Linked DNA regions of Homo sapiens: regions 2, 3 and 4 are each reported to be linked to region 1. Evidence: microRNA targets listed by miRTarBase, many of them from high-throughput screens and not tested one by one. Region 1 holds a microRNA gene; each other region holds the end of a gene's coding sequence.

Region 1 (3,099 bases):
CCTGTCACATGCTACAACATAGACGAACCTGGAAAATATGCTAAGTGAAATAAACCAGTTACAAAAAGACAAATATTCCACTTATATAAGGTTTCTAAACTAGTAATATTCATAGAAACATAATAGGATGGTTATTTCCAGGGGATGGGGGAGGGGGAAAGCTAATTGGCATCGAGTTTCAATTCCGCAAGACGGCAAAGTTCTGGAGATGCATTTCACAACAATGTGAATATACTTAATACTACTCAACTGTACACTTGCAAACAGCTAAAATGGTCAATTTTATATCATGTATTATTACCACAACAAAAAAACAATAATTCAGAAGTTAGGACCTCTGATGAACATATAATTCAGGCCTGAGTAGCACGTCTTTCTGAGCAAACCCAGAGATGGAAACCTCAGTAGCTGGGTGGATGTGTTCTGAAGCACAGAACCAAGAAGAAAACTTGTTGCTGCTTGTCTTAACTTCAGGGAAAGGAACTTTAAATCACTACCCCCAAATCAGCATCCACTTGAGGCTAGGCCAAGTGGACACTCTAGCAGCATCTAGGACCACCTCATGGATATAATTACAGGATAACAGCATGAGCCTGTCTCAAAATAATTCCACAATTATTTAACTTTATTTAAGACTTTGAGGGCTATGTCTATAAATTCTGTTTTTCATCATAGGAATGAGGGAGGAAAGGTGTGTGCCATGGGGAAGTGGGAGTGGGGAACAGGTTTCTAATAGAGTAGCTATGGGCTTCAGTCCATTTTGATCCTGAGCAAACACAATGGCATTAGGAAGCTAATAATTCAGAAGTTAGGACCTTTGATGAACACATAATTCAGGCCTGAGCAGCATGTCTTTCTGAGCAAACCCAGAGATGGAAACCTCAGTAGCTGGGTGGATGTGTTCTTTTGAAGGATAGCAGCATAAGCCTGTCTCAAAATAATTCTGCAGTGAGACAGGTTCATGCTGCTATCGTTCCAAAGAGGAAGGGTAATCACTGTCTCTTTCTGCTACTCCTCTGGTTCCACTTTCTGGAGAATTCCCTTCAGACACCCCTTCCCTCGAGTCATCCTGTGCAGCAGACCTGTTTACGTGATCAGTCGGTCATACTCAACTCACGGAGGTATGTGTCTGTCACGAACATCTCAAGTACTGTATATTTCATCCCCATTGTTCCCATGGCTTACAGAAAACCTGTGCTTGCATATACTCCCAGCACCACTGATTCAGTGAAGCCAAAACTGAGCTTCACACTTTTGTCACAAAATGGACTTCCCTTTGGATGGCTTCATTTCTAATCCTGCTTCTTGATGTTTCAGACTTCTGGTGTGAAACAGTTGGAGTCAGCTTTGAGACACCCCTGTTGGTATCAGGCAGGGTCTAACCAGAAAACCATGACTACGTTAAGTTCTTAGAGTGCAATTCCTTATGACATGGTTAGGTGGGTGATGAGCATCCCACAAAGATGGTGAAGTGAGAAGCAAGCTATTGTTGCTTCTGGGCTTCAGGAACAGCAGAAGGAGGTGATGTGACTGGAGCCCAATGTAGGGGGTCCTCTGCTCTTCTGTCTCCCACCACTGCTTTCTAGTGTCCAAACTGTCTGAAGCCAGACTATAGCCAACTGACACAGAATCCAATGCAGCCTGTGTGTATTAGGCTCCCTCACAACATAGAGCAACTATGAGTAGGTGAATAAATAAATCAACAGATAGCCCCAGAACTGGCAGATTCTCCTTCATATTAGTCTGTCTACTACACATTTAGTCAATGGAGGGTCCACTAACTAATTATAATAGATTTATATGTAACCAGGGTTACAAGTTCTCCTGATTTCCAAGTCAGTGTTTTCTTTTTTCTGTTTCTCTTTCTCATACACTTCCACAATCAAGTATGTACAACTTTTCAAAACATTGCCTAGAAGACTGACAAAATATTGAAAAGTATTCCCTCACGATAATTATCTGATAACTTGGCAGGAAAAAAAAATCCTGTTTTGTTTGCTATAACCCATTGAAAATATTAGGATAAAATAATAATTTTCAGGCTTAACAATCACTTATGGATATTTAAAAGCTAAAGAGAGAAAACATAGGCTATTTGTCCAATTCTTAATTGTTTAGACTCAGTAAATCCAATACTTACAAGAGGAAATGGGCTTGACTCAATTCGAATATGTTGTGTGTGATTAAACATTTGAAGTAGCCCATTGCTGATAATATTCATAAGAATTGGAAAACAGTGCAATCTCTTGGTATTACACACAACTGAAAATCTATAATCCTTAAAACAGAAACAAATAAATAATGTTAATGCTAAATTCTTAAAGAACAAAGGCAAGGTTTATGTATAAAAGATCCTAACAGTGCCACATGCTTGTTGTGTGTCCATCTTCAAGTGAACTAAACTTTCTGAGCTTTACCTTCCTCATCTATGAAAAGGAAATACTAAATGGGTTGTTATAGGGCTTAAATGACACTCTATTCATGTACATTAAGCTCTAGCACAGAGTCAGCATACAATCAATATGAATTTTTATTTGTATTACTAATTTTAGATAATTTTGTCTCCATTTTGCTGATGGGGAAATTTCATTTAGTAGAGTTTAAAAGTCTCCCTGACAAGGAGATGCTGTCAGTTTATGATGAAGAAGCAAAGGAAGATTGGGCATGGTGGCTCACACCTGTAATTCTAGCACTTTGGGAGGCCAAGGCGGGCAGATCACTTGAGGTTAGGAGTTTGAGACTAGCCTGGCCAACATAGCAAAACCCTATGTTTACTAAAAAATACAAAAATTAGCCAGGTGTGGTGGCACACATCTGTAATCCCAGCTACTTGGAAGGCTGAGGCAGAAGAATCACTTAAACTCAGAAGGCAGAGGTTGTAGTGAGCTGCGATCACACCACTGCACTCCAGCCTGGGTGACAGAGCGAGACTCTGTCTCAAAAAAAAAAAAAAAAGCAGCAGCAGCAGCAAAGGAATGCTGGCCTTCTGGATAGGAGATAAGCATGGAGTTCATTAAATATTCATCCTTACCCTGCCAAAGAAGCATTTCCCCACTTCCTAAAGCAATCTTTATATTTATGTACTTCATGTTTAGGAAA
Region 2 (3,000 bases), not on the chromosome of region 1:
TTTCCCAGCATTTCATGCTGTCGGTGCTTTGGATTTTGGCCATTCTAATAGTTGTATAGTGGTCTGTTGTTCTAACTTGCATTTTCCTGATGACATGTTATATGGAACATCTTTTCATATGCTTATTTGCCACCTGTCTATCTTCTTTGCTGAGATATGTTAAGGGTTTTGGCCTGTTTTTAATCAGGTTGTTTTCTTACTGTTGAATTTTAAGAGTTCATTGTGGTTTTTGATTTACATTTCCCTAATTAGTGATGTTGAACATATTTTCATGTTTTTTGACCTACAGTTTTGTGTGTGTGTGTGTGTGTGTTTTTTTGAGACAGAGTCTCACTCTGTTACCTGGCTGGAGTGCAATGGCATGGTCTTGGCTCACTGCAACCTCCACCTCCTGGGTTCAAGCGATTCTCCTGCCTCAGCCTCCTGAATAGCTGGGACAACAGGTGCCCACCACCACACCCAGATAATTTTTGTATTTTTAGTAGATACGAGGTTTCACTATGTTGGCCAGGCTGTTCTCGAAATCCTGACCTCGTGATCCGCCTGCCTCGGCCTCCCAAAGTGCTGGGATTGCAAGCGTGAGCCACTGCACCTGGCCTAGTTTTGTTTTTGTTTTTGAGACAGAGTCTTGCTGTGTTGCCCAGGCTGGAGTGCAGTGGCACAGTCTCAGTTTACTGCAACCTCTGCCTCCCAGGTTCAAGTGATTCTCCTGCCTCAGCCTCCGAAGTAGCTGGGATTACAGGTATGCATCACCACGCCCAGCTAATTTTTATATTTTTAGTAGAGAAAGGGGTTTCGTCATGTTGGCCAGGCTGATCTCGAACTCCTGACCTCAAGTGATCCACCTGCCTTGGCCTCCCAAAATGCTAGGATTACAGGCATGAGCCACCACGCCTGGCCTGACCTAGTTTAAGCACACCAAAAGCTACTTTACATTTTTAAAAAGTGAATTTGATGTCTTTTGAAATCTCCTCTGTGCACTTGGGGAAGTCCCTGTCCTCTATCAACTTGAGAGGCTGGCTGCTGTGCTCACAAGCCTTCATTTACACAGCAAGCCTTCCTTTCAGGACGGCTGCAAAACGGAAGCCTAAAACAGTAGATGGTGACAGAATGGTATTGTTACCAGCAGGGAAATGGCAAGCTCGCCCCCTGGTGACAAGCTGGGGAGACAACAGAAAAAGCAAATTTTTTTTTTTTTTTGAGACGGAGTCTCACTCTATCGCCCAGGCTGGAGGGCAGTGGCGCAATCTCAGCTCACTGCAAGCTCCGCCTCCCGGGTTCAAGCAATTCTCCTGCCTCAGCCTCCCCAGTAGCTGGGACTACAGGCGCCTGCCACCACGCCCGGCTAATTTTTTGTATTTTTTAGTAGAGATGGGGTTTCCCCGTGTTAGCCAGGATGGTCATGATCTCCTGATCTCGTGATCCACCCGCCTTGGCCACCCAAAGTGCTGGGGTTACAGGCGTGAGCCACCGTGCCCGGCCACAAATGTTCTTAAAAGGCACAACCACCACAAAGAACATACTCTCTACGGTACCTGGAATCTGGAAAGAACACTAATTAACACAAACCGTAGGTCACTCAAAATTGTTCATTCACAGGGACAGTTAAAAAGGCTCAGTTCCAGGGGACAAATGTGTCACAAAGTCCTTGCTTACAAACTCCTAGCTGAAGCTGCCTTGGGAAGAATCTGCTCCCTCAGCATGATGGGCAGTGCCAGGCGACTACACTGGAGGTGCTAATTTTTAACTGCCAATGTCTCTTCTAGACGATGGCAGGCTGATGTTTCATCTTCTTCAGCAACCCTGAAGCATAACAGCCTTTAAGCTGTATGTTGCACGTCCCTCTTGATCTCTGTGAATTTACTGAAAGATGTGACTCTAAAGGCAAAACGAAGCCCACACCAATGATTATGTAAGTCAGAGGGTGGTAGTTGTGACTATTTAACTGTTCTTAGTTCTTTAAGACCTCAATTACGTAAACCAAGATACGTTCTGATTTTCAAGCCATCCTAACCAAAATAATAATGATGAAAATGATGACAGCTGATTCCTTTAGGCCCCGGGGCTGCTAATTTTTCAAACTTCCTGCTATCCTCCCTTCCCTACTACCAATCTCCAGGGCTCTCTAGTTTGCTCCTATTTTTCACAGAGTTGCCAGAGTTTGAAAACTAAGACCCCCATAAACATGGCTATCTTCACAGAACATCCAGATGAAGGAATATTGACTGTAATAAACATTGTACAGAACACCCAGATAAAGGAATATTGACTGAAATAAACATTGTAGGCTATACTCCAGTAGCTGGGGCAATGGATCCATGTAAATGGAGCTACAAATTCAAGTCCCAAGTTTTTTTGCTCCAGCAGGTTGACCTTCAAGGGCTGCATCAGTCTTCAGAAACAGGAGCTGCCAGCCTCAAGCAGTTTGTTGCCTGGGAGGGAGGGTGGACCACATTACCCAAATGTTAAGGGTTGGACACCTTTCTGCTGTTCTTTGTGTAGCTGCTGGGCTCGATTTTTTAGCACCTCGGCCTTGGCCTCATCCTTATCAACACCATCCCCCAGCTTGTACATGCGACTGGCATTGGCACAGGCCCAGATATGACCCAGGTCACAGGCTTTCATGGAGTATTTACATGCCAGGTCCATGTCCTTGGGAAAGCCTGGGGCACCCTGCAGGAACATGGCACTGAGGTTGAAGCAACTGGAAGTATAGCCACCATCACAGGCCCTTGTGTAGTAGTCCCTGGCCTTTCCCAAGTCAGGCTGGCCATCCTCATTAACCTGTCCATCATGTGCCAGGAGGCCAACGTTGTGACATGCTGCTATTGACTTCTTTCCAGGCTTCTCACACGCCATCAAAAAGCACCTGGCGGCAGCTTTCAGGTCCTGGGTCAGACCACCTGAGAGGAAGGAAAGTAGGAAAAAATAAACCCAAGCCAGGGCACAACCTAAATGTCTCAGGCCAAAGTCAGTGAATTTTTTTTTTTTTTTTGGAGA
Region 3 (3,099 bases), not on the chromosome of region 1:
TCCGTGAAAGATGGTACATGATAAGCACTTGATAAATCTGTCATTCTCTTTGAGGGATTACTTTATCTCTGGTATTCTCTTCCACTTAGAACACAGGTGAAATATTCATGCATTTTGTTTACTCAAAAGTCAAAAAAGTTTTTATTCTCTGATATATAAAACCAAGAAAACTTTAATACATAATATGCATAGTTTTGTTTTTTTAAAAGGAGAAAGTGGCAGAAGTACAGACCTGTGTAGAAAAATACACCCAAGCAGCTGTTCTAAGCAGTAATTCCTAAAATTATGAATAGCACACAAATCTCAGTGAAAGCCTCATTTCTTAAAAAAAAACTCACATTTGCTTAACAACTTAAAATGTGATAAGAAATATAACCTTCCTTCTTGATAGCCGACCCAGTTATATAACAGACATTCAAGAATCAGCAATAACTTAGTAAAAGAACATTTCCTTTGTGAGGGTAACATTATTAGTTTTAGTTCCACAAAAACTGCTTCTGACTGCTGGGGCACTGAACGACATGCCCTTCATCAGAGAGCAAGTCCGGGGGGTGCGGATCCTCACCGGAGAGGTCATGGGGAAGCATCTTTGGTCTTCTCTTGCTTAGGAACAAAGGGCCAGCAATCCATTGCATACAAATAACATCAAACACAGGTGCAGGAATTCACAACTCCTCAGCAAAAGCTATTTCTTAAAAATAGAACTTGCTTTTCACTTAATATTCAGAAAAAATGAAAATGCTGAGATGCAGTTTTCCCTCTTAGCAGTTCCATGTTCACGAAGTCAGGACAGTTCTGCCACTGACCAGCAGGTGGTGCTGGACCACAAGGAGAAGCAGCGGGAGGTACGCAGCTCCGACAACCTAGAAAAATATTTCTTTACCTGTATCTGTATGAAAGATTTGGTCAGAGTTCTCAAAGTATAAATGTAACATTTTATTCAAGCAAAACACATTATATAAAATTTAATTGTATCAAATAGGAATTTTTAAAATTACTAAATATATAAACGTTGCTGGAAGATCAACATAAAGTGAGGATGAATTTAGTATTTGTTAAAAATCACTAAGTTCCACGTGACTTCTTATAGTTAAAAGTGAGAACTGCCAGTGACCATTCTAGAAATGAAAATTAGCATGTATTGTGACTTACTAAAAGAAACGTCTGTTTCAGAAAACAAAGATGAGAACTCACGTGCAAATGACTGCATTCTCAAAGACATTGCTGGACATGTGCGATGCTTATCCTTCATTTCTGCTGAAAACATTTCCGAAATCGCCCTCAGAGTCAGTCAACCCACAGGAAAAGGGTCATCTTAGAGGCAATAGAGGCTTACATCCCAAATGGGACTGCTGAGCCCAGTCCAGCAGAGCTGCTGCTTCCTACCCTGGATTTCCCCTTGAGGCTGAATGGGCCACCTATGTGGGTCACAAAAATAGCCCCTGGTCTGGTGCTGTGGCTCACGTCTATAATCCTAGCATTTTTGGAGGCTGAGGGGGGACCGTATCACCTGAGGTCAGGAGTTCAAGACCAGCCTGACCAACGTGGTGAAATCCCATCTCTACTAAAAATACAAAAATTAGCTGGGTATGGTGGCATGTGCCTGTCCCAGCTCCTTGGGAGGCTGAGGCAGGAGAATTGCTTGAACCCAGGAGGCGGAGGTTGCAGTGAGCTGAGATCCCTCCAGCTTGGATGACAGAACAAGACACTATGTCTCAAAACAAACAAAAAAAAGCCCCGGAACAATTCCACAGCTGCGGGTGCCATAAGTGTGCTGGTGGGAGCTCTCCTGTCCCAACCGAATTATGACTATGAACAGTGTGAAAATCTGGAATTCATCTCCATGGTTGTACATGGACAGGTTTGGGTGTATTTTTTTTTTTTCCCGAGACAGAGTCTTGCTCTGTCACCCAGGCTGGAGTGCAGTGGTGCGATCTCAGCTCACTGCAACCTCTGCCTCCCGGGTTCAAGCGATTCTCCTGCCTCAGCCTCCCAAGGTAGCTGGGATTACAGGCGCCTGCCACCACACCTGGCTAATTTTTATATTTTTAGTAGAGACAGGGTTTCACCATGTTGGCCATGCTGGTCTCGACCTCCTGACCTCGTGATCAGCCCACGTAGGCCTCCCAAAGTGCTGGGATTACAGACGTGAGCCACTGCACCTGGCTGCATTCGTTATTAAAAACCAGCCTCTTGTCACGTACATCAGCACAGTCGGCCTCGCCTGCAAGTCAGCAGAGAGCACAGCAAGAATGCTGAGATATGTTGCATGGGCCAACTTACTTAAAAACATGAATTTGACTATTTTAAAAAAGTAATTTTAAAGCTTCACTTTAAAAACAAAGTATTTGTAAAAATTTTAAAAAGCATTTTTTTGCACTTGGTCAGATCTTTTCTATCACTTTGCAAAGGCGCCAAGACCTGCACTCAGGCCTGGTATAGAGTGTCTCTACAGGCGTTCATTTTAAGTTCTGTGGCGAAATTCTATAAAAATAGGCAATACTTGTGTTTTTATATCCGGAAGTTGAAACAAAGAGCAGCGTTGTTTTTGTGGTCACAAAAACAACAAAAAATGAGCGGATGCAGTCTGCAGGTCCTGTCCCTGTCCTTACCGGGGAACTGGAGCTAGGATTTGGGGGCCTCTCGGGAGTCTAGAGCGTGACCGCGGGCCCGTGCTCCTCCACGCCGCCTGGCGGCAGCGCCAGGCTGTGACGGGGGTCGGCCCGCAGGGAGCTGAGCAGCCGCTGGAGGCCGCCGTCCAGGGCCAGGTCCCGCTGCAGCCGCTGCGCCAGGCCCGCGCCATTGACCCGGGAGAGGCTGCCTGCGGGCGCGCCCGGGGTCTGGGGGGGACGTGCAGGCTCCAGTGTGCCCTCGATGACGACGTCGTTGTCCTCATCGCTCTCCGCCTCGTCGGGGTGGAAGTTCTGCAGGACGCGCGGGGCGGGGGGACCCACGAAGCCCGCGGTGCCGTCCGAGGGCGGTCCCGAGCTGCCCAACGCGCGGCCGCCGCGCACCACGTTGTTGCGCTGGTTGGCGGGCTTGACGGTGACGATGAGGTTGTGGCTGTTGGCGATCATCATGTCCGTGACCTGGTCCAGC
Region 4 (3,099 bases), not on the chromosome of region 1:
AGCTTCAGGGCTCAGAAAGAGTGAGAAATTTGCCAAAAATTCTACAGCCAATCCAAGCAGAGCCAGGACTCCAAGGTAGGACCTGCGCCCAGGTGTGTAGCCTGTACCCCGAGCAGCTCCAGCACCGCCATCCACACACAAGACACAAATGAGAGCGTGCTCTCCAGACCTGTACAGCGCATGGCCTGCCAAGCTTTAGACCAAAGCCCCGACTCCAATCCAGGGGCCCGACTACAAAGCTGGTATTTTTCTTTACTCCATATCAAGCCCTTGGCTAAGAAATGGGGATTTCCAAGCCCACAGCTGCTCTTGTTTCTCCCCACAGTGCTCCTACATCCCAGGCAGCGTGGACAATTACCAGACGGCCCGGGCCGACGTGGAGAAGGTCAGAGCCAAATTCCAAGAGCAGCAGGTCTTCTACTGCTTCTCCGCACCTCGGGGGAACGAAACCAGCGTCCTATTCCAGCGCCTCTACGGGCCCCAGGCCCTCCTCTTCTCCCTCTTCTGGCCCACCTTCCTGCTGACCGGTGGCCTCCTCATTATCGCCATGGTGAAGAGCAACCAGTACCTGTCCATCCTGGCGGCCCAGAAGTAGAGCCATCCATCCATGCCATACCACTTGTCAGGGCACAGGGGACTGGCTGGGCCCCCAGGGCTGCTCCCCACTTGCAGCACAATGCCTTCTCCACCTGCCCTCCCACTCTTCCAGTCCAATCCACGCTGTCTTCTGTTGCAGGACTAACCTTTGAGAAATCCTTTTGTGAAGTCATTGCCTGCTCAAGAATGTACAGTGGCTCCCCAATGCCTTGGAGGCCATAAGGCCAGCCAGTTCTAGCTCTCTATTACCTGTCCCCACTCAACTGACTCATACCTGTTTCCGGCTGCATCACTATGTGCCCCACAGAGAACGATGATCGTCACCTCTGTGCCTGAGTTCTCCCTGTTGTCTCAAAGCGGTACCCATCCTCCCCCAGAAGCTGTCCCCAGCGAGCCTCCCTTCTTTGTTTGAATTCTCTAATAAGAGCAACAGCAGCTCCCATTTCTAGAACACATTTACAGTATTACTATTTTCTAGGATATAAAGTGCCATATATATTTTTAATTCCAATATTAATAAATGTATGCCAAACAACAATCAGCTGCAAGGAAACACATGAGAACTCATCAAAATTTTAGCGGTGGGATGGTGGTTAATTTCTGTTTTCTTCCTTATCCCCTTTTTATTTTTGCTGCTTTTCTAAATTTTTGATTATAGGAAGGGTGTGTTTCGTTTGCTTTTAATCAGAAAAGCCATGGTAGATGCCATTTTGGAAAAGTTGAAAGAGTGTGTCCCCCTCACAGAAAAAGATGGAAGTGGGTCTGGGGACGGAGTTGGGTTCCAGTCAGAGACAGGCCATTCAGAACACACAATCTTAAAAACCCCTCTGGGCCGGGCGCGGTGGCTCACTCCTGTAATCCCAGCACTTTGGGAGGCCGAGGCTGGTGGATCACGAGGTCAGGAGATCAAGACCATCCTGGCTAACATGGTGAAACCCCGTCTCTACTAAAAATACAAAAAATTAGCCAGGCGTGGTGGTGGGCACCTGTGGTCCCAGCTACTCAGGAGGCTGAGGCAGGAGAATGGCGTGAACCCGGGGTTCGGAGCTTGCAGTGAGCCGAGATTGTGCCACTGCACTCCAGCCTGGTGATAGAACAAGACTCCGTCTCAAAAAAAAAACAAAAAACAAAAAATGAAAAACAACCCTCTGGAGGAAAGGTCATGATATAGAGGAGGATTTGTTATTTAAATTGAGGGTATGGACTCTGGCACTGAGCCTGCTGGGGAAGCCTATCTCAGATTTGAAAAGGGCAAAATGGGAAGAAGCCATCACCTTTACCATTCCCACTCCAGGAAGTTTTCCTAGAACGATGACTGTCCAAGTGTGGTCCCTGGGCCAGCAGCATCAGGATCCTGTGGCAGCTTGTGAGAAATGCACACTCTCAGGCCCCTGTCCCAGCCCCACCACGCCAGAAGCCCTGCACGGGGTGGGGGTAGCAATGTTCTGTGTTCTAACAATGCGTAGGGGATTCTGTGGCACACCTCGAGCCAGAGAACTACCGGTGTAGGAAGTGAGCGTCCTGTCGCGAGGATTTTCAGAGCAGGTGAGTGACCATTCGGCAGGGCCAGTCCTGAGCTGGGTGTGAAGTTAGGCTGGTGTCTGAAGTTTCTTCCAGTGTTGTGAGTCCAAGATGCAGATCTTGGGTTTGAATCCTGTCTCTACTCTGCCCGATTTCATCTCTTTGATTCTTAGTTTTTTCATCTATAAAAGAAGGACTCTTTCTGGATAGTTGGGAGGGCTGAAGGAATGTTTGACACATCATAGGTGTTTAAAATGGCAACTATAGTTTTTTTTGTTTGTTTTGTGTGTGTGTTTTTTTCTTAACTTTCATTTTAAGTTGCAGGGTACACGTTCAGGTTTGTTACATAGGTACACTTGTGTCAAGGGAGTTTGTTGTGCAGATTATTTCATCACCCAGGTATTAAGTCTAGTACCCATTATTAAAGAAAATGTGGTACGTATACGTCATGGAATATTATGCAGCCATAAAAAGGAAGGAGATCATGTCCTTTGCAGGGACATGGATGGAGCTGGAGGCCAAATATTATCCTTAGCAAACTAACACAGGGACACAAAACTAAATACTGTATATTCTCACTTATAAGTGGGAGCTAAATGATGAAAACACATGGACACAAAGAGGGGAACAACACACACTGAGGCCTATTGGAGGGCGGGAGGTAGGAGGAGGGAGAGGATCAGGGAAAAAGAGCTATTGTTAGTAACAAGAAAAAGTCGGCCGGGCGTGGTGGCTCACACCTGTAATCCCAGCACTTTGGGAGGCCGAGGTGGGCAGATCACGAGGTCAGGAGATCGAGACCATCCTGGCTAACACGGTGAAACCCTGTCTCTACTAAAAAATAGAAAAAATCATAGCCGGGCGTGGTGGTAGCCGCCTGTAGTCCCAGCTGCTCAGGAGGCTGAGGCAGAAGAATGGCGTGAACCCGGGAGGCGGAGCTTGCAGTGAGCCGAGATCGCGCCACGGCACTCCAGCCTGGGT

What was found. Region 1 holds the annotated microRNA hsa-miR-4524a-3p (UGAGACAGGCUUAUGCUGCUAU, at 914-935, opposite strand). A microRNA usually pairs through its seed, bases 2 to 8, with sites in the 3' UTR of a target mRNA and lowers its output. Matches are read on the target gene's strand: a 7mer-m8 pairs with bases 2 to 8, a 7mer-A1 pairs with bases 2 to 7 and ends in A, and an 8mer does both.
Region 2: the mRNA of COA7 is a reported target of hsa-miR-4524a-3p. Seed matches in the 3' UTR shown: 8mer at 617-624 and 8mer at 319-326.
Region 3: miRTarBase lists PARD6G as a target of hsa-miR-4524a-3p. Seed matches in the 3' UTR shown: 7mer-m8 at 2,055-2,061 and 7mer-m8 at 1,888-1,894.
Region 4: the mRNA of KCNMB1 is a reported target of hsa-miR-4524a-3p. Seed matches in the 3' UTR shown: 7mer-A1 at 945-951, 7mer-m8 at 2,252-2,258 and 7mer-m8 at 2,944-2,950.

The regions. Positions count from the first base shown.
Region 1 is chr17:69,098,657-69,101,755 of GRCh38, forward strand. It overlaps MIR4524A (microRNA 4524a), which reads right to left and starts at 976; the gene lies at 908-976. It overlaps ABCA6 (ATP binding cassette subfamily A member 6), which reads right to left. Exons shown (of 39, transcript NM_080284.3): 22 at 2,141-2,278. MIR4524B (microRNA 4524b) reads left to right here and starts at 886; the gene lies at 886-1,000.
Region 2 is chr1:52,685,266-52,688,265 of GRCh38, forward strand. COA7 (cytochrome c oxidase assembly factor 7) reads right to left here. Exons shown (of 3, transcript NM_023077.3): 3 at 1-2,903. The coding sequence ends at 2,455. Among named protein-coding and RNA genes, the nearest start is that of COA7, 12 kb to the right of the region's middle. RefSeq lists a silencer at 2,698-2,898.
Region 3 is chr18:80,157,120-80,160,218 of GRCh38, forward strand. PARD6G (par-6 family cell polarity regulator gamma) reads right to left here. Exons shown (of 3, transcript NM_032510.4): 3 at 113-3,099. The coding sequence ends at 2,652. All of the region lies in intron 1 of PARD6G-AS1 (PARD6G antisense RNA 1), which reads left to right. Among named protein-coding and RNA genes, the nearest start is that of PARD6G-AS1, 11 kb to the left of the region's middle. RefSeq lists a silencer at 2,631-2,700.
Region 4 is chr5:170,376,200-170,379,298 of GRCh38, reverse strand. KCNMB1 (potassium calcium-activated channel subfamily M regulatory beta subunit 1) reads left to right here. Exons shown (of 4, transcript NM_004137.4): 4 at 326-3,099. The coding sequence ends at 595. It also overlaps a transcript of KCNIP1 not described here. Among named protein-coding and RNA genes, the nearest start is that of KCNMB1, 12 kb to the left of the region's middle.